Homo sapiens: one gene and its partners. The protein of the gene in region 4 interacts with the protein of the main gene of each other region in a pairwise test. Each region holds a gene or a part of one and is shown on either strand. Other genes may lie near its edges.

Region 1 (4,795 bases), on a different chromosome or scaffold from region 4:
TTTTGTCTTTTGTTTGTTCACGTTGCACTTCACACCATATATACTTTTTTTGGTGCTCCTTCCCATGACAGACTTAACTGACCCATTAATAGCAGCTCTGGGGCAAGCATGCCTACCCAGTAACATAAAGGCTTCCTCAGTGCCGGCTGCGCTTGGGGATATGCTGTTAGTTCATGACATGAGAGCAGCTAACGGCTGCTGAGAGATAAAAAGGAAATAGGCAATTTAGATGATGTGCCTGGTTTCAGTGTTAAATGAGCCTGTGTGTTTGGCTGTTGATGTAGCACGTACAGATCTCTAAAAACTGCTGGGATGCAGCCATGGGAATCCAAATCAGTGTTTTCTTTGTGATGAAAACTAGATGCACAAATTTTTAGAAGTCTCACTTGACAACCTCTGAAATATTTAACTTTGGATTTTGTTCCTCTATAGCAGAGTTTTGAGGCTTGTAGTTTAGTGCATTGCTTTGCTTTAACACGTGTTAATCCAGTTGGACTTGCTTCCCCAAGAATATGCATATACAAACTCACACATACTTTATTAGTTTTTCATTATGATTTCTGTATATCATGCAATGGATGTATCTTGTCAGAGAGACTGTCTTTCTTGTAATTAAGCTTACAGTTATTAAATGAGAACGTTTGGGACAATAATGCAGTCTGACAGTATTGAAAGTAGGGCCAGGCACAGCGGCTCACGCCTGAAATCCCGGCACTTTGAGAGACCAAGGAGGACGGATCACTTGAGGCCAGGAGTTTGAGATCAGCCTGGCTAACATGGTGAAACCCTGTCTCTACTAAAAAATACAAAAATTAGCTGGGCATGGTGGTGCACACCTATAATCCCAGCTACTCAGGAGGCTGAGGCATAAGAATTGCTTGAACCCAGGAGGCAGGGGTTGCAGTCAGCCGAGATCGCGCCACTGCACTCCAGCCTGGGTGACAGAGTGATGACTCCATCTCAAAAAAAAAAAAAGCAAAAAACTGGTCACCCAGTCTGCAGAATGATAAAGTCAGTAAAAGTTACCTACGTATATAGGTTTGAAAAGGTCTACTGTTCTCAGCTTCATTTACACATACAGGTATGGTAAATGGTATGTGTAAATGGTATGTCTCTATTCCTCTGAATACTGCTTTTTATTTCAAGAACACCACAGTGTTAGTTTATAGTGAAATACTCTGCAAAGTTTCAAACATGTTTATTTGAAAGTCTAATTAAATGATAGCAGAGAGAAAATTTCCTGAAGTGTAATCTTCTTTTATACTGTCAGTATGTGCTTGATTGAATTAAGGAATTTATATTTGGTTTTACTTTTCTTAAAAGTTCCAAAATTATTTTTCCCCTAGGAAGATGAGAATGTGCCTACTGCTCCTGATCCTCCAAGTCAACATTTACGTGGGCATGGGACAGGCTTTTGCTTTGATTCCAGGTAGTTTTCTTCTTTACTTTGTAGAATTTGGGTTATATCGGCCAGTGGTTCTCAAAGGTGGTCCTTGGGAACTCATTAGAAATGCACATGTGTAGGGCCTGGCCTAGCTGAACCAGAAACACCAGGCGTAGGCCCAGCAATATGTGTTTTAACATGTCCTCCGATTTAGGGAGTTTTGTCAGAAAACATTTTTAACTTGCAGTATTTAAAAGAATATTTACTGTTCCTAAAATGTCATTCAAATGCATGTATTGTCTGTTGTTTGGGGATGGGAACTAGTTTTGCAAAAAACACCTAATGTTGTATAATAATGCACCAATGATCTTGCTGGTTAAAAATACAGTATTTTTGGCCAAAAACAAAAACATGTCCTCCGACTGATTCTGATGCATACAAGCATTTGAGAACCAGTGCCATAAAAACTTTGCTATTAAACCAAATGCACTGGTGGGAAGTTATGAGTTGTATTTATCCTTACAGTCTTACAAAAGGCATTTTCTGTTAAACGTGGAAGAATTCTTGGTACTAATTTCACGTAATTGTGATTGGATTTGGGAGGTTTTAAGGGGGAAAAACGGTTTTGTTAATCTAATTGTAAAATTGAATTTAGAGGCTCTATAAATGGGTTACACAATTGTCTACAGCAAGCATTTAGAAGCAGAGAAATGTTTCTGGAGTAAAGACTTTTAAGGTAGGTTGTTTAGTATGAATATCAGCTAACTAGATAAATGGAACCTTGTCATATATGGACAAGTTGTTGTTCTACATTTATTAGAAACATGTAATTCTTTCATTTTTCTCTTTAAGCTTTGATGTTCACAAGAAGTGTCCCCTCTGTGAGTTAATGTTTCCTCCTAACTATGATCAGAGCAAATTTGAAGAACATGTTGAAAGTCACTGGAAGGTGTGCCCGATGTGCAGCGAGCAGTTCCCTCCTGACTATGACCAGCAGGTGTTTGAAAGGCATGTGCAGACCCATTTTGATCAGAATGTTCTAAATTTTGACTAGTTACTTTTTATTATGAGTTAATATAGTTTAGCAGTAAAAAAAAAAAAAAAAACCACACCTAAAATAGACCACTGAGGAGACCATAGAGCGGATGCTTTCATGCACCCTTTACTGCACTTTCTGACCAGGAGCTACTTTGAGTTTGGTGTTACTAGGATCAGGGTCAGTCTTTGGCTTATCAATAAATTTTAATCTCTGTTAATCTTACCTGCTTTAAAAAAAAGTTCTTGTGTGTTCGTATCTTTATTTATTCCCTAGTTTGCAGAACTGTCTGAATAAAGGATACAAGGATTATTTCAATGTTACTGCACTGAAAAACGTGTATGTATTAGTGTGCTAGATTATTTAGCAGAATATTCACAAGTTTCTGTTGACCTTGTTGATTGAGCATGACTACTAAATATTATGTAATAAAAAGCATTTGTCATAACAGTCTTATGAAGTAGTTCTTCGAATATAGAAAGTTCTATAATTTAGCCCATGAAATGATAGGTTTTTAATTTTCAGAAATGGAGCTGCATGTAGAATGAGATCACATGCTTTTATATGTGAAATATTGGTTTTAGCAATTAACAGAAGGCATACTTTGCTAATTTTATGGCAAAATTTTAGAATAACCTGAATGATTATTTTTAAACTATCTTGAAGTTGTATGTATATATCTAATGGGAAAATGGAACAAGAGATGTCAGTATAATTGTTTTCCTATTAAATGATCTCATAACAGGGGTGTTTGTGGCATAAAAATCATAGAATATATATCAGTATCTTTTTTACATTTTCCTGATGAGAATATAAATTTGAAATATTCTCAGTAAGTGATTAAAAGTACAATACATAAACCCAAATCAAAGTAATGTGTTTCTTCAGTTATGTCTGTGCTGTATAGAACTGTCACTAACATTAAAGAAAGAGGACACATTTTTCAAGATCTGTAATTTCATTGTTGTCAAATTTATTTGTGAAAGTTTTTCATTAATCTAGCATCTTGAACATCTTTTTTTGGTTTGGGCCTTTAAAATACTTCTGAATTGTATTCCCTTTCCCTTTTATAATGTGCGTGTGAATAATTTAAAGCACCAACTTTTGATTTTGCCGCTTTTGTAGTTATCATCAAAATAGTTTACATTTGTTCTGAGCAAACTAGCTATTGAAGATGTTAACCTAATATTTAGACTTGGTGGCATTTTGAGTTGCTATATGTGAACTGCAGCATATCATGTCGTCACTTGTATTTGTTTGTGGAAGCAGAGTTTGTATATTGTTAGAATCCTTTAAAAAGTTTTTTGAGTCTAGGGCAAACCAGTATGAGGCATTCATATGCCAGCTGTTAGGACACAGCAGTCCTAGGAAGCAATAGCTTTGGAGACTTTCAGCTTCCAGATAGGTTATATACTTAGGTAAAATATGTTCAACAATGGGAGCATTTTTGTTGGAGTTAATAATTATGGACCATGTTAATCCAAAAGTATCCTTGGAATATTTATTATAGTAGTAGACACTGTTCATCTTACTAGCCTAGAACTTATTTTAAAATAGTTTAAGTAAGTAAGTCCAAGCTTAATTTGTTATTGACAGAAAAGTAATACAGCCTAATCTAATCTAAGCAAAAATGTAAGGGAATAAAGTCTACATGCATCAACTGAACAGCCTTAGAATGAGGAACTGAATGGATATATTAATTTCCATGGTAAACTTGATACTGGTTTTCATAATGGACACTAAGGAAAATAAAGAGCCATATTTATTTTTGGGTCAGAGGCAGTTTATTTTAAATGTGATTTCATTTACATTTATAAGCAGCTTTTCTTGACAGGAATTTTGATTAAATTGCCTTCAGTTCTAAAACAAACCTCTGTTGCTTTCAGACTTAATGTGCTCTGTCCCCAACAAAACATATGAAAATATAATTTAAAGCACAGTTTTCACAGACACAGTACAATACATTCACTATACACAGTATAACAAAATATTCCCATCCTTACCTGTTTAGTAATACTGTCACAATGAATAAGTAAATAGAAATTGGAATTTATCTTTGAAAGCATTGAAAGAAATTTAACATGCACAATGACTATTTTATGACTGTTTAGCTGTTGAACTACTGATCCAGCCTGCAGTTTCTTGCACTAGAAAGAGCGAAGCTAAATAATAATTGCTGGCCTAAAAAATTTTTTTTGGTCAATTGTAGGTAGATATGAAATAGCCAAGTGGGGCCTTCTTATGCACCAACTAGTTGCGTCTCATGTCTGGATCACCCTTTTAAACATAGGATAACACTGTATATTCAGGACCAAGACCATACTTCAGATCTGAGGAAATTTTTAGAGGGCAGTGTTTTTATAAATACTTTGAAT
Region 2 (5,189 bases), on a different chromosome or scaffold from region 4:
CAACAGGTAAATTTTTCTGACTAGCAGTACTTAGAGGCAAAAGACTTTGTTCTGCATCCTGTTTATACCACACATTCCATTTCTCAGTAGGAAAGGAACTCAGCTATAATGAGCAATTATTTATACAATGATGAATTTATTCACAGGCTAGTATAACTTAAAAACAATACGTATACCAAATTTTCATAATCTTTAATAGCTTACATCAAGGTTACTAGTAAGTAGGCTTTACTTTGGATAGAAATAAATTACATTCCACACATATGTCAGGACCAGAGCCAAGACTGGCAAGTCTGGGTTGGAGCACAGCTCACCAGCATGCCTCCTTGGAGGCAGTCGTGGGCTCAGTGCTATACATCAAATAGACCATGATTCTTCCCAAGACAGGGTAAAAAGCAAAATAAAGTCTACCATGAATTCAGATGTACATTTACTAAAATCAATCCAGAGTTTAGAAAAAGTTGACCTATTTACACTTAGTTTGCTAAGAATTTATTAACTCAAAAAAAAAAAATCAACTTGATAATAGTTTAAGTATCATGCCCAAAGTCCAATCGTAAAATTAAGCTATGGTTTGAAATTCTCTTGGGGCTCAGAGTATCATTACTCCATTTTGGCTTGTACAAAGTATAAATAAAAGTCCCTGTATGCCTGAGTACACAGCATAATTTGGTTCATCATTATAATACTAGGGGGGGAATAAGACGTCTCATTATGAAAAATTCTCCACTTCATTGGGCAAAAACTGACAATACAGTATTTGGATTATTTATCCTTAAATATTCTGCAGATGACTCATGAAAGGAAGAAATACTGCATTCATTTATTTGTTCATCAAATATTTATTGAATACCCTCTATGTGCAAAGGCACTATTCTACGTACTAGGCAGAACAGCAGTAAACCAATAGTCCCTGCTCTCATGGAGCTCACATTCTAGTAAGGAAGACAAAATACACTATGTTGGGTGGTTATGAAAAAGAATAAAGCACCATAAATGGCTGGAATGTGACTGTGAGGGAGAAGAGAAGGACTGCCATCTTAAAATAGTAGGCTCAGAGAAGGTCTCTCTGAGATCACATTTAAACAGAAACATAAAGGTGAAAATAAAGTTATTAAAGGAATTCTCAAATGGAATACAGTATCTACCAATTTAATTTTAATTTGATAGCATTATCAAAACTTTGAGGTAATAAATTCTTAGCCAAGTATTGTGTCAAAACAAGAATCAACTTGTTCCAAAAGCTGTTTAAGCTTTATTTTAGTAAATACACATCTAAATTCATGATATGTCTCTCAGTCTCAGTACCTTTACCTATAACATGGAGATACAATAAGTGCTATCTCAAAGGGATGCTGTGAGGACGAATGAAATAAAATGAGAAATGTAAGATGCCGGTGTTTTGCAAATGATAATCACTCAGTATATGGGAAGGTTTAGTGTAACTATGATTAAAATGGGCACTCAGGCCAGATGCAGTGGCTCAAGCCTGTAATCCCAGCATTTTACGAGGCCGAGGTGGGTAGATCGTTCGAGCCCAGAGGTTGAGACCAACCTGGGCAACATGGCGAAATTCCATCTCTATTTAAGAAAACAGAACAAAACAAAACAAAACAAAGGCACTCAACAAGTGGTGGTGGCAGTCATTATTATTATAGCTGTGTTCTGGGTGGTTTAAAAATCTCTAAAACCCTGACTTTCTTTAGATGCACAGAATACAATGAGACAAATGGTGTTTTATTCTGCTAAAATCCTCCTTACCTGTTGGAAGGAATCTTCAAACAATGTCTGCCGGGACACATTGATCTTTACATGACTAGGTAGTGCATTAGACTAAAAACAAAAATAATATCATAATATCATCTGAGTTATAGTATATGTATTGTATAAAGAGAAGACTAAATTATTGAGTATAAGATTTATTTACCACTATAGTACCTGGCACAAATAACGGAAGTGAGCAAGCTTCCACCTAAAGCCGCGTTCATAAGCAATTTGTGGACCACCTTTAGTTCTAAAGAAAAACAAAAATAAACCAAATTAACTCATAATAAAGTTGAATATTTAGTATTCAGTATAAAATCAGAGTGTACTAAAGTCCAACAAAATACCACAGGAAGATTTCTGCTGGGAGAGAAGGGTATACATACATGGTGGGCCAAAAGAAGCTCAAGTAATGGGGACTATTACAGCAACAGGACACACATATACACAAAGAAGGACATTGTATTTATGGCTGGATCTTTTGTTAGTGAGTTAAATGAAATATCAAAGTCTACTACAGACTATTTCAAAGAAAATCTTCGATAATCCTTAAATCTAAGGAGGACAGAGGCTCCAGACAGAAGAGACGTGGAAGGAAATTCTACCACATCCTAAGCCTAACCTAAAACCCAAACAAATATTCCTGGAGATAATAAGCAAAGCAAAATCAAATTCCTAGAAACAACATTGTCATCCAGATCACACGGTTCACGTGGTCAGTGAGAGAAAAGGCAGAGTTGGTGGCACGGCACCTAGGAATACAGGTTTTACAATATGGTTTGACTCACAGTGACAGAGCCTGGATCTCTTGCCTATTGATTGAGGGCCTGACAGGCACAAAGAACTTTCATAATGTTAAGGAACACTTTGGAACAGATGAAAAATGTTCTCTTGTGTTGTCAGGTTCAAGTGAATTCACTTACTCAAAAAGCATTTACTGAATGCATAGCTGGTACCTGGCTTTCTTCTAGACAGTGACAGCATTACTTATTAATAGGTAAAAATGCCTGTTTTGTGGAGCTTATATACTAGTGAAGGAGATAAGACAAAAAAATATAATAAATAAGTAAAGTACAAATGTCTTATCACTCCTGACCTAGAACAATAAAACAATAAAAAAGGCATTGTTAAAAGGACAAAGTATAAGGAGTGATATGAGAAGCATTTTGTGATTTTCAAAAGGGTAAAAGGAGTAGAGCTCACAGACAAAGTGACATTTGAGCAAAAACATGAAGGAGAGGGCAAAAGCCATATGGAGTTTCGGGAAAAGAGCATACCAGGCAGACGGAATAAAGGCTAAGACCCAAGGTGGAAGCTGAAGGTGTTGAAGGCACAGCTAGCGTCCAATGAAGCTAGAACACGGTGAATGAGGAGGAGCGAAAACCAAGAGGAGGTTGAAGAGATAAGAGGGGTCAGATCCTGTAAGGCCATTTAGGCTGTTGTAAAGTGTGCTTTTTACTCTTATTGAGATGGAAACCACTGAAGGGTTTTGTGCAAATAAATGACTTTTAATTAAATTTTGTTTTGGAAATTCAGTCTCTGTGCTGTATGGAGAGTAACAACATTGTACAAGGTGTGGGAAGAAAGCAGAGAGAGGACTCTGCTACCAAGCCAGGCAACAGATAATGGTAGCTTGGACCAAAATGGTGGCAATGGGGGTGGTGAGGCATAGCTGGATTCTAGATATGTTTTGAAGTTGAGGTAACTAGAATTCTTGATGGACTGTTTGTAAGGTAGGAGAGATAGAGGAGTTGTGGATGATTCTACATTTTTTTTTTTTCCTAAGATGGAGTTTCGCTCTTGTTGCCTAGGCTGGAGTGCAATGGTGCAATCTCGGCTCACTGCAACCTCTGCCTCCTGGGTTCAAGCGATTCTCCTGCCTCAGCCTCCTGAGTAGCTGGGATTACAGGCACACGCCATCACGCCCAGCTAATTTTACCATGTTGGCCAGGCTGGTCTCGAACTCCTGACCTCAGGTGATCTGCCCGCCTCGGCCTCCCAAACTGCTGGGATTATAGGCGTGAGCCACCATAACAAGGTGATTTCAAAATTTTTGACCCAAGCACCTGCTAGAGTGGAGTTATCAACTGTGACAGGGAATATCACAGGTAGAGCTGGGTTTTTGTTGTTGTTGTTATAATTTTTTTTTTTTTAGAGACTAGCTCTTGCTATGTTGCCCAGGCTGGTCTCAAACTCCTGGGCTCAAGTGATCTACCCGCCTCAACCTCCCAGAGTGCTGGGATTATAGGTGTGTGCCACCATGCCTGGCCAGAGAGCAGGTTTTACAGGACCTACCAAGAAGGAGTTACAAGTGGAGATGTCAATAAGCAGCTGAATATAGAAAGCAAAATTTCAAGTGAGAAGTCTGAGCTAAATTTGTGAGTCATTAGCAGGCACATGTTTTAAAAGCATAATACTGAGTAAGATGCATCAAGAGAATGAATGTAGTTAACAAAAAAAAAAAAAAAAAAAGAGGCTTAGGAAAAAAAGGAGGACTCGACAAAATAAAGATAGAAGAACAGAAACGCAGAGGGAAATCAAGAAAGTATGGCTCACAGCACTACTTTTGCCAGGAGAGAGAAATGTATTGTGTCAAATGTTCCTGGTAAGTCAAATCAGGCAGGACTGCAAACCAACGCCTGGATTAACAATGTGAAGATCATTGGTGCCCTTGCAAATTCAGTGTCAGGGGAACTTCCTTGGAGTTGGTTTAAAGGAGAAACTATGAACAGCAATACAGAGACAACCATGCAAGTAGCTTTCCTGTAAAGGGGAGCAATAAAAATGAACTGTGGGCTGGGTGTGATGGCTCACGCCTGTAATCCCAGCACTTTGGGAGGCCAAAGCAGGTGGATCGCCTGAGGTCAGGAGTCCGAGACCAGCCTGGCCAACATGGCGAAACCCCATCTCTACTGAAAATACAAAAATTAGCTGGGTGTGGTGGCGGGTGCCTGTAATCCCAGCTACTCAGGGGGCTGAGGCAGGAGAATCGCTTGAACCCAGGAGGTGGAGGTTGCAGTGAGCTGACATCGCATCATTGCACTCCAGCCTGGGCAACAGGAGCGAAAGTCCGTCTCAAAAAAAAAACAAAAAAATGAACTGCGATTGAACACATTGGTAAAGGGAAGAGTTGTAATTTCTTTTTTTTTTTGCTTTTTTTTTATATCTAGGAGAAATAACAGCTGATAAGAATAATTTTGTAGAGAAATAAAACCTGATAATGCAACACAAAGGTGATAACTGTTGGAGCAATTAAGTAGAAAAGTGGGGGTAGGAATCGAATGTACCAGCAGAGGGACGAGACTTTGATAATAACAATGACAGTTCATCTATAGGAACAGGAGGGAGGAGAGATGGTAGGAGACGGACAGATATGGTGGTACAACTTTGCAAAAGACCTTTTAGGATTGCTTCTATTTTCTTAG
Region 3 (5,189 bases), on a different chromosome or scaffold from region 4:
GCAGCAGATCAGCATTCCAAAGTTTATATCAATGTTAGCTCAGCTTTTCTGCAGGAAGATGCTGATAATAATAGGTGTGGAATAACCAAGGGTATGGCATTTGTTTAAGTGCAGCTCTTTCTAAAGCCACTTTAATTGCACACACTACCTTCTCTACCAACTGTATTTTCTGCAGATAACTGAACAATAGAGGGATGCCAGTGTGGTATTATGTTAGAGCCTTCTCTCCTGGAATGTTGGTAAAATGTTTGAATTCCAGTAAAGACAAGATTAATATCTTGATTAATGACAACAACACTGATTAGTTAAGTATAATTGTTTAAACTGAACTCCATGTACTTCAAACTAATTGACCATAAAAATATTTCCATCTTTCTCAGCTTGTGATATTTCTGGCAGGTTAAAGAATTTGTATAGATATAAAACCTCTAATGAAACAGTCAGGCAAATAAAATGAGTGGAGCACAAGAAAGTACCCCAAGTAAAACAAACTCTGGTTGAGATATTTTAATCATCTTAAAGGGAGACAGGTTGTCCTAGCCACATCCTCATGAGACAATCAAGAGCCACTGTGACCTCAGCAACGGATCCTAGCAGGCACCCCATCAGGATAGGCAAGAAGTAATTGAGAGCAGATATCTACTCAAAAATGGATTATGGTGTGACCAGGAAGGATGGGTTTTGTTTTGTTTTTTAAGTACCTTCCCTCAAGATTAAACAGATATCAGCACTGCAGAAGGGAATTGTCTACCCTGTAGTTTCAGAGTCCCTTGTTTCTTGGTATCAAGAAGTTCATGGCTACCAGAAGAACCTTCTCTTTCTGCAGAGAGAAACAGCAGCAGAGAATTCCAAGGAGCCATTCAGTTTTCTATGAGGACTTTTAAGAGACATTTACCCAAGGTCTTGGTATCAGAAAAGCATTCTATCTCCTAAAGGACTTCTTACTGAACATGGAATTTCATGCATCCCTCTTTCCTCTAGGGCCACAAGCAGCCTCCAAGTCAAATTTCTGACCCCCTGTTAACAAACATTCAAGATGATATCAAGTTTCTTTCAGTTTGCTCATATTACCCCAGATTTATTTATCTCATTCGCTGTGTGAAAATCATTCATTTTAGCTTTATATTTATAATATGCAAATAAATCTTTATGGGCTATGATGAGATTCACAGTTAGATGAATCAAACATGAATCAAAATGATCAAAGTACATTGGAAAGTCTCAACTGCTACAGAAATAAATTCACACACACACACACACACACACACACACACAGTCTCTCATGCTCACCGTTGCTCGTAGTGCCTGAATAGCCTGATTTCGCTGAAATCCCATGGAGGTGATGATAGCTACGATTTCCTCTGGAGGTTGGTTATCCAGTCCAGAAGCACCAAAAACAGAGGCTCCAGCAGAAGCTGCCCCTCCATAACCAGGCATGGTCAGCGGCTCAGCAAAATCTGAGAAAAATAACCACACCCAAGTCTTTTCCTTTTTTTTTTTTTTTTTTTGTCCTGAAACAACACTAACAAGGAAAAACATGATTCTACAAAGTTATAATAATCAAGACAGTCTGGGCCAGGCGCAGTGGCTCATGCCTGTAATCCCAGCACTTTGGGAGGCCAAGGCGAGTGGATCGCCTGAGGTCAGGAGTTCGTGGCCAGCCTGGCCAACATGGCAAAATCCTGTCTCTACTAAAAATACAAAAATTAGCAGGGCATGGTGGTGCACACCTGTAATCCAGCTACTTGGGAGGCTGAGGCACAAGAATCGCTTGAACCCAAGAGGCGGAGGTTGCAGTGAGCTGAGATTGCACCACTGCACTCCAGCCTGGGCAAGAGAGCAAGGCTCTGTCTCAAAAAAAAAGACAGTCTGGTACTGGTATATAGGCAGACATATGGATCGATTAAATAGAATTGAGATTCCAGAAATAAAACCATATACCTGTGGTTAACTGATTTTCAACAAGACCATTCAGTGGGGAAAGGACATTATTTTCAACAAATGATGCTGGGACAACTGGATATCCACATACAAAAGAATAAAGTCAGACCCTCACCTCACATCATACACAAAATTAACTCAAAATGGCTCATTGACCTAAATATAGGAGCTAAAACTATAATAATCTTAGAAGAAAACACAGGAGTAAGTCTTTGCCATTGGATTAGGCAATGGTTTCTTATTTACAACACAAAAAGCACAAGTGATAAAAGAAAAAAAAGATAAATTGGACATCATCAAAATTAAAAATGTTTGTGCTTCAAAGGATACCATCAAGAAAGTGAAAAAACACCAGAATGGGGGGGAAAACACAAATCATATATCTCATAGAAACTCGTATCTGGAATTTGTAAAGAACTCTTAGAACTCAATAATAAAAGGATAACTTCATTAGAAATGGGCAAAGAATTTGAATAGACATATCTCCAAATAAGATATACAGTCAATAAACATACGAAAAGTTGTTCAACATCATTAGTCATTAGGAAAATGCAAACCAAAACCACAAGATACCACTTCATACCCACTGGGATGGGTATGATAAAAAAGATAATAATAAGGGTTAGTGATGATATGGAGAAATTGGAACTCACATTCATTACTGGTGGAAATGTAAAATGGTTCAGCCACTGTGTAAAACAGTTTGGTCGTTCCTCAAAATTAAATATAGAGTTACCATATGACATGGCAATTCCACTCAAGAGAAGTAAAAATAAATGTCCATCCACACAAAAACTTGTAAAAAATGTTTATAGCAGCATTGTTCATAAAAGCCAAAAAATGTAAATAACCCAAATGTCCATGAACTGATAAAGATTAATAAAATATAGTATACCCATAAAATAGACTATTATTATTGTTATTATTATTATTATTTTAGATGGAGTCTCACTCTGTTGCCCAGGCTGGAGGGCAGTGGCGTGATCTCAGCTCACTGCAACCTCCGTCTCCTGGGCTCAAGCAATTCTCCTGCCTCAGTCTCCCAAGTAGCTGAGACTCCAGGTGCCCGCCACCATGCCCAGACAATTTTTGCATTTTTAATAGAGATGGGGTTTCACCATGTTGGCCAGGCTGGTCTTGAACTCTTGACCTCAAATGATCCTCCTGCCTTGGCCTTCCAAAGTGCTGGGATTACAGGCGTAAGCCACCAAACCCGACCCAACAGACTATTATTTTACCGTAAAAAGGAATGAAGTACTGACACATGCTACAACATAGATGAATCTTGAAAGCACTATGCTAAGTGATAGAAACCAAACACAAACGACCTTTTATTATATGACTCCATTTATATGAAATGTCCAAAACAGGCAAATCCCTTGATCCAGAAAACAGATTCGTGGTTGCCAGGGGCTGGGGTGAGCAGGAAAATGGGGAGTGACTGCTATTATGTATGAGATTTCTTTTGAAGGGTACAAAATGTTCTAAAATTTGATAGTGGTAATGGTTACACAACTGTGAATTTATGAAAAACCATTGAAATGTACACTTTAAACAGATGAATATATGCATTATAGCTTAATAAAGTAGATAAAAGAAAAAGCTAACTAAACATCCTCCATTTCTTCATGCCCATGTTTCCATTTCAAATTTTCATCATCGCTTAGTTAGAAGTATATCCCGTATCTTTCTATTGGTCTTTTTGCCACTGACTTATACACTTTAAAGGGATGAATTATATCTCAATAAAGCTGTTTGGGGTTTTTTTTGTTGTTTTTTTGTTTGTTTGTTTTTTTGAGACAGAGTCTCGCTCTGTCACTCAGGCCAGAGTGCAGTGGTGCAATCTTGGCTCACTGCAGCCTCCGCCTCCTGCGTTCAAGCGATTCTCCTGCCTCAGCCTCCTGAGTAGCTGGGACTACAGGTACGCACCACCATGCCCAGCTAATTTTTGTATCTTTAGTAGAGATGGGGTTTCACTATGTTGGCCAGGATGGTCTTCATCTCTTGACTTCGTGATCCGCCTGCCTTGGCCTCCCAAAGTGCTGGGATTACAGGCATGAGCCCCCACGCCTGGCCTAAAGCTGCTGTTTTTAAAAAAAAAAAGAAGAAGAAAAAGACTGGCTTTCTCCTCCACTGCAGGAGATTAGGAACTATAAAGTCATTTTCTAGGGATACATCCACAGGGACCTTGGAAGGACCAGGACTCAGCATCACTGAGGGTCACATCAGACTCCAAAGCCATTCCATTTTCTCGCCACCTACCTGGCTCTTCCATGTGAACAATGATCCAGTTGAAGGCCACCTCGGCGCCCATATTTCCAGTGAAGTACACAGCCTTGCGACATGCTTCCAGCGGGAAACCCATCTCGGCCAGCTGCATCACTGATGACTCATCGATGTCTGATGCTACAGAGCACAACAGGATATTCTAGTGTGAAAGAGGAAACTGTCGCTTCTTGTCTTAGCTACTCTCCACTCTCCTATCCACATGCTACCCAAAGAAAGTGCTATTCTGTTGGGTGTAGATAATGGTTTTACTTTGTTTAGTTTTGTTTTAAGCCACACAAATATTAAAGCTATTTGGGCTAAGTTTATATCTTTGACCCACATAGGAACCAGGTTAATTACCTGGACAATGCAAGCAATGAAAAACGATTCTCTAATTTCATATGGGGAGATTTAGTGTATTCCCAGAACGATTTCAGAGCATTCTCAAGACCTCTATGACAGCCTCTCCTATGACTGAAACTTGAACAGAAAGCTCTATCTACAGGCCTAAAAGCCTGTTCCTTAAACCTCACAGAAAGTTACTGCAGGCCTATAGATACATCTGGCAATCACAGGAAGCAAGCAGCTCTGGAAAACGGAGAGTGCAAATGTTAAGTATAGAAGGAAAAAGTTCGTTTTTTAATTATACAAGCTTAAAACATTAAGAGGCCAGGCGTGGTGGCTCACGCCTGTAATCCCAGCACTTTGGGAGGCCGAGGCGGGCGGATTATGAGGTCAGGAGATCGAGACCATCCTGGCTAACACGGTGAAACCCCGTCTCTACTAAAAATACAAAAAATTAGCCGGGCGTGGTGGTGGGCACCTGTAATCCCAGCTACTCGGGAGGCTGAGGCAGGAGAATGGCATGAACTCAGGAGGCGGAGCTTGCAGTGAGCCGGGATAGCGCCACTGCAGTCCAGCCTGGGCGAAAGAGTGAGACTCCGTCTCAAAAAAAAAAAAAAAAAAACATTAAGAGACGG
Region 4 (5,189 bases):
TGGCTGCATAGTATTCCATCGTGTATATGTGCCACATTTTCTTTATCCAGTCTGTCATTGATAGGCATTTGGGTTGGTTCCAAGTCTTTGGTATTGTGAATAGTGCTGCAATAAACATACGTGTGTGTGTGTGTCTTTATAGTAGAATGATTTATAATCCTTTGGGTATATACCCAGTAATGGGATTGCTGGGTCAAATGGAATTTCTGGTTCTAGATCCTTGAGGAATCACCACACTGTCTTCCACAATGATTAAACTAATTTACACTCCCACCAACAGTGTAAAAGTGTTCCTATTTCTCTACATCCTCTCCAGCATTTGTTGTTTCCTGACTTTTTAATGATTGCCATTCTAACTGGCATGAGATGGTATCTCATTGTGTTTTTGATTTGCATTTCTCTAATGACCAGAGATGATGAGCTTTTTTTTTTTTTATCATATGACACACAGTTTTCTAAAGTGGTTGTGCCACCTTATACTTGCACAAGCAGTGTCTGAGAGTCCAAGTGTTCCTCATCCTCACCAGCACTTGGTTTTGTCAGTCTTTTACATTTTAACCATTCTAGTTGGTGTGAAGTGGTATCTCATTGTGGTTTTTACTTTGCACTTGTGACAACTAATTATTTGAAGACCTTTACATGTGCTTATTGGCTATTCTTATATTTTTTATGTGTCTGTATGAAATGTCTATTTAAGTCTTTTGCCCCAATTTTTAATTGGGCTGCTTGTCTCTTTATTATTGATTTGAGGAGTTACTTGTATATTCTGGACACAAGTTGTTGTTTGTTCAATATATGAGTGAAAATATTTTCTACCAGTCTGTAGCTTGCCTACTATTGATTTTCCTAACTGTGTCCTTCAGTGGGCTGGCTTTAAGATTTTAGTGAAGAGATTTTGGGTTCAGTGTTAGGAGTAATGGGCCCTCACCCATTTTATAGTTGATAATGTTAATTTTTATTGGCGTACTGATGGGCATTATAACCACACTTTTTTTTCAAGGCATTGTATATTATCGTAAAAGAAAATTTCCAAGGGAAAACTCGAGACTTTTCCATAGTAACAGTGATTGTGTTATTGGGTTTAAGGATTACAGATATATTAGATCTCTTTGAGTAGCAACTGCTAGTGTGTAATAGAAGCCCATGTGGGAAGATCAAGTCCTGTCCTTTGCCAATTATGTATTCTCCTTTTCCAAGAAGCTGTGGCATAATCATAAATGATACAGTGCAAGAGGGGACATATTCTATATGCTGCCCAAGTCAAGTCCAATAGACACTGGGGAATCCAGCCTGGGAAACAGTAACAACAGCAGCTTCCATTAGTATTTTCCCCAAGATCTGATGACAGGCTGCATCCAAATTAACAATAAAAGGAAAGAAGCCAAACTTCTCTTGGAGAGAAGAAGGAATTCCCCCTAGGTAAAGTGGCATCATGTGATATTAAACATTGACTCATAAAATGGGTCTCGGGAAATGCTTTCAAGCTTGACTTGGAATAACAATAGTTAAAGAACAGGGTTTCTCCCTTAGAGTTCATATGTGAACTTGTTTACCAGCCAACTCTGACATATCAGCTACTTGAATTGATGCTTTGTTCTAACGCTGATAATTATTGCCTCTAATCTTTTATATTTGCTTTTATATTTGCAATAAGATTTTGATTTTCTTAATAATCATGGCTCTCAAGTTGAAAAGCCTGCATAATCTCTAACTTGTACTAAGTAAATACTGGCTTCTCAGTTGACTACTATCAATTTTTTAATTATTTGGAGTAATATTTGTAATAATTAACTTTAGAGAAAAGCACATGGAAAATCTTTGTGTGCATATTCTTTAGTACCTAAAGTGTTCAGAACTGAAAAAAAGACCCATTTTTATGTCCATTTACATACTGTGATTTCTGGATAGTAAAGGCTCTGAGCTCCTTCATGTCCCTGTGTTTCACTTATATTCCAGAGTTCTGTATTTGTTTATTTGCTGCTGATCCCACAAAACTAAAGGAAAAAAAATAAGAGTGGCTCAAGGAGGAAATAGCTAGGGCTTAGTGTAATGTGTGGGTGGAAGATAAGGGAGTAAGAATTATTTTCAAAGAGAGAAAAATAAGGACTTGAGGTTATTGAGAAGACTTAAGAGTCAGTGGCATCCCTCAGCACAATTTTAAGAAGTCTAAAATGTGAAAAAAAGTTTGTACATTGAAAACACGGTTCTGATCTTTTTTTAAAAAAATGTTCTCTTGGAAGGGAATATGAGTTTTTAAAATCAGGTAAAACTCTGTCTGAATTTAGCTGTTATCTTTTACTAACTGTCCATTCTCTTGCCATTTCAGGTAAACCTCTTTGTGCTGCTCTCTGTGGTTTGTGTCCTCTTAAATCTAGCTGGATTTATCCTAGGCTGCCAAGGGGCCCAGTTTGTGTCCAGCGTGCCCAGGTGTGATCTGGTAAGCAGTCCTAAAACATCACTGTGCATCTAGGCAGACCCTGGCTTGTCAGGTGTTCCTGGCGAGACTTGCAACATTCAGCATCAGGCAACTGTCCTGAAGTGAAACCTGAAATGGGTAAAGGGAAGTGGGAAAACAAAACAAAGAGCTGCCTGCTGATTATTTCACCCAAGTTGTCGATTACTTTTTCCAAAGCAGGGACCAGCCAGCAAAACACTGGAACCATAGTGATATAATGCATCATTAGTTAGTGAATGGATGGATCAGATGTCCACAATCAATCAGTCTCTGACTGTCCTCATCTAAAAAGAAATAAAATGGATATTGCCAGAATACAGGTCAACAGTCTTTTATCTGAAACCTTTGGAGGCCAGGTGTGTGTCAGCATTTAGAGTTTTTCCAGTTTTAGAAGATTAAATATTTTGCATATACTATTTATTATGTAGCATGCCAGTGGAGTCTGGGACAGCAGGCTGTTATCATGACTTCTGGTTTTCAGAGCTTTTTGGATTTCAGCATTGTGAGTAAGAGGTTGTGGACTTGTACCATCTCTGAACTTAAAAGAAAATAAATTTTATTGTGGTAAAATACACATAGCATGAAATTTACCATCTTAACCATTTTTAAGTCTACAGTTCAGTAGAGGTAAGTATATTCACATTGTTGACAACCAATCTCTAGAACTCTTTTCATATTGTAAAACTGAAAGTCTATGCATATTGAACAGCAACAGCTCCCCATCCTCCAGCCCCTGGCAATCACCATTTCACATTCCGTTTCTATGAATTTGAGTATCCTAGGTACCTCATACAAGTAGGATAATATGCTGTTTGTCTTTTTGTGACTGGATTATTTCACTTAGCATCATCTCCTCAAGGTTCATCATGTTGTAGCATGTGTTAGAATTCCCTTCCTTTTTAAGACTATATAATATTCCATTGTATATACATGATACCTTTTGTTTCTCCATTTATCTGTGATGGATATTTAGGTTGGCCCCCACTCTTGGTTATTGTGAATAACATTGCAACGAACATGGGCCTGCAAACATGTCTCTGAGATCCTGGTTTTAATTCTTTTGGATATATAACCAGAAGTGATCATTTGGTAATTCTATTTTAAATTTTTTGAGGAAACTTTGTATGGTTTTTCATAGCAACTGCACCATTTAATATTTCCATCAACAGTGCACACGGGTTCCAATTTCTGCACATCTTCACTGACACTTGTTATTTTCTGCTTTTTTTTTTTAAAGTGGCCATTCTAATGGGTATAAGGTGATACCTCATTTGGTTTTGATTTGCATTTTCCTTATGATTAGTGATGTTGATAGTCTCTTCATATGCCTGCTGGCTATTTGTATGTCTTCATTAAAGGAAGAATGTCTATACAAGTCTTTTGCACATTTTAAAATTGAGTTATTTTTTTTTTTGTTATTGAGTTATAGAAGTTCTTTATATATTCTGTATATCAGAATATATATACCACAAAACCAACACTGTGATTATTTCTGATGTTATAATTATAAAAGTTTGGGCAAGCCATGAAAAGTATAAGGCAGAACTTAAATATCATTTGAATTCCCACTATCCCTGGATAACAATTTGGCCATGTGTTAAGCATCTCTTTATGCACAAAAACAGACATAATCAACAGGATCATGTTGTAAGTGTTGTTTTCCTTTGGGGAAATTACTGACAAATGAAACCTTTTTGGGCAAGGGGTTGCTCTTCTCTTCTCTTTCCCACTCTGCCCATACCTGTCACCCCAAATCCTTAGTAACAGGCTGGGGAATTATATTTCATAATGTTTTCATGGTCATGTAATCTTACATAAATATGTATGGAGTGGGGTCGTTCATGATTTTTTTTTAAATGAGGTATATTGTATGTACTTCCCTGCATCCTGTTTTTATCACTTAAAGATGTATCACTTAGAGATAGATTAAATACAGACTAACACCCTTAATTTCTTTTACCAAGTTAGTTCCTTATTTTGTTATTGCCTGTTGTGGCTTGGGTTTTGACCAGTAGACACAGTGCTGCCATTAATATCATTCTGTATATCCTCAGGGAGATTTTAGTCCTAAGCGGAGTAGGTTCCCAGGACAAGGAATTGTTCTCAGCAGTATCTTTTCTCCTGCTTATCTCATTTATTATTACAAATTCAACCATTTTATTGTTCTATCCATCGCTTTTAAATTGGGGTAGAAGTTACAGTGAAAAACACAAATCTTAAGTGTGCAGTTCATTATAAGTTTTGACCAATGTATACATTCATTTTGACAAATGTATACACTCATGTTATACTCCAAACAATTTCTATACTCCAAACAAAATATTGTTTGTTGTACTCCAAACAATATTTCTGTCACCCTAAAAAGTTCTTTAGTGTCTCTTTTCAGGCAGTCTCTACTCTCTCATAGGCAACCACTGTTCCTGTTTCTTTCACCATGGGTTAGTTTTGCATGTCCTTGAACTTCATGTAGATGGAGTCACACGGTTTGAAAGTTTTTGTGTCTGACTTATTTTGCCCAGTGTAATGTTGTTGAAATTCATCCATATTTTTATATTGTATCTGTTGTTTGTTCCTTTTTTCAGGACACTATTTCATTTTATAAAAATACCAGAATTTTTTTGTTTTTTTGTTCTCTTGTTGATGGACAGTTAGGTTGTTTCCAGTTTGGGGGTATTATGAACAAAGCTGCTGTGAGCATTATTGTTTTGGGGAGGCAGTTTTCATTTCTCTTGAG

What was found. The genes of interacting proteins can lie anywhere in the genome.
Region 1: the proteins of ENTREP1 (region 4) and TAX1BP1 interact in a two-hybrid assay, tested with the Homo sapiens proteins (one large-scale study listed by BioGRID).
Region 2: the proteins of ENTREP1 (region 4) and WWP1 interact in binary tests that used the Homo sapiens proteins (3 or more experiments, as listed by UniProt).
Region 3: the proteins of ENTREP1 (region 4) and USP13 interact in a two-hybrid assay, tested with the Homo sapiens proteins (one large-scale study listed by IntAct).

The regions. Positions count from the first base shown.
Region 1 is NC_000007.14:27,826,392-27,831,186, forward strand, and holds the end of TAX1BP1 (tax1-binding protein 1), read left to right. Parts: intron 1-1,346; coding exon 1,347-1,429; intron 1,430-2,236; coding exon 2,237-2,438; 3' UTR 2,439-3,376; downstream 3,377-4,795.
Region 2 is NC_000008.11:86,432,277-86,437,465, reverse strand, and holds part of WWP1 (NEDD4-like E3 ubiquitin-protein ligase WWP1), read right to left. Parts: intron 2,015-5,189; coding exon 1,939-2,014; coding exon of another isoform or gene 1,930-1,938; exon of another isoform or gene 1,928-1,929; intron 1,834-1,927; coding exon 1,762-1,833; intron 1-1,761. UniProt on the Homo sapiens protein: E3 ubiquitin-protein ligase which accepts ubiquitin from an E2 ubiquitin-conjugating enzyme in the form of a thioester and then directly transfers the ubiquitin to targeted substrates.
Region 3 is NC_000003.12:179,760,270-179,765,458, reverse strand, and holds part of USP13 (ubiquitin carboxyl-terminal hydrolase 13), read right to left. Parts: intron 4,348-5,189; coding exon 4,204-4,347; intron 1,458-4,203; coding exon 1,291-1,457; intron 1-1,290. UniProt on the Homo sapiens protein: Deubiquitinase that mediates deubiquitination of target proteins such as BECN1, MITF, SKP2 and USP10 and is involved in various processes such as autophagy, endoplasmic reticulum-associated degradation (ERAD), cell cycle progression or DNA damage response.
Region 4 is NC_000009.12:69,369,173-69,374,361, forward strand, and holds part of ENTREP1 (endosomal transmembrane epsin interactor 1), read left to right. Parts: intron 1-2,326; coding exon 2,327-2,437; intron 2,438-5,189. UniProt on the Homo sapiens protein: Functions as an activator of the E3 ubiquitin protein ligase ITCH in the ubiquitination of the CXCL12-activated CXCR4 receptor. Thereby, triggers CXCR4 endocytosis and desensitization, negatively regulating the CXCL12/CXCR4 signaling pathway.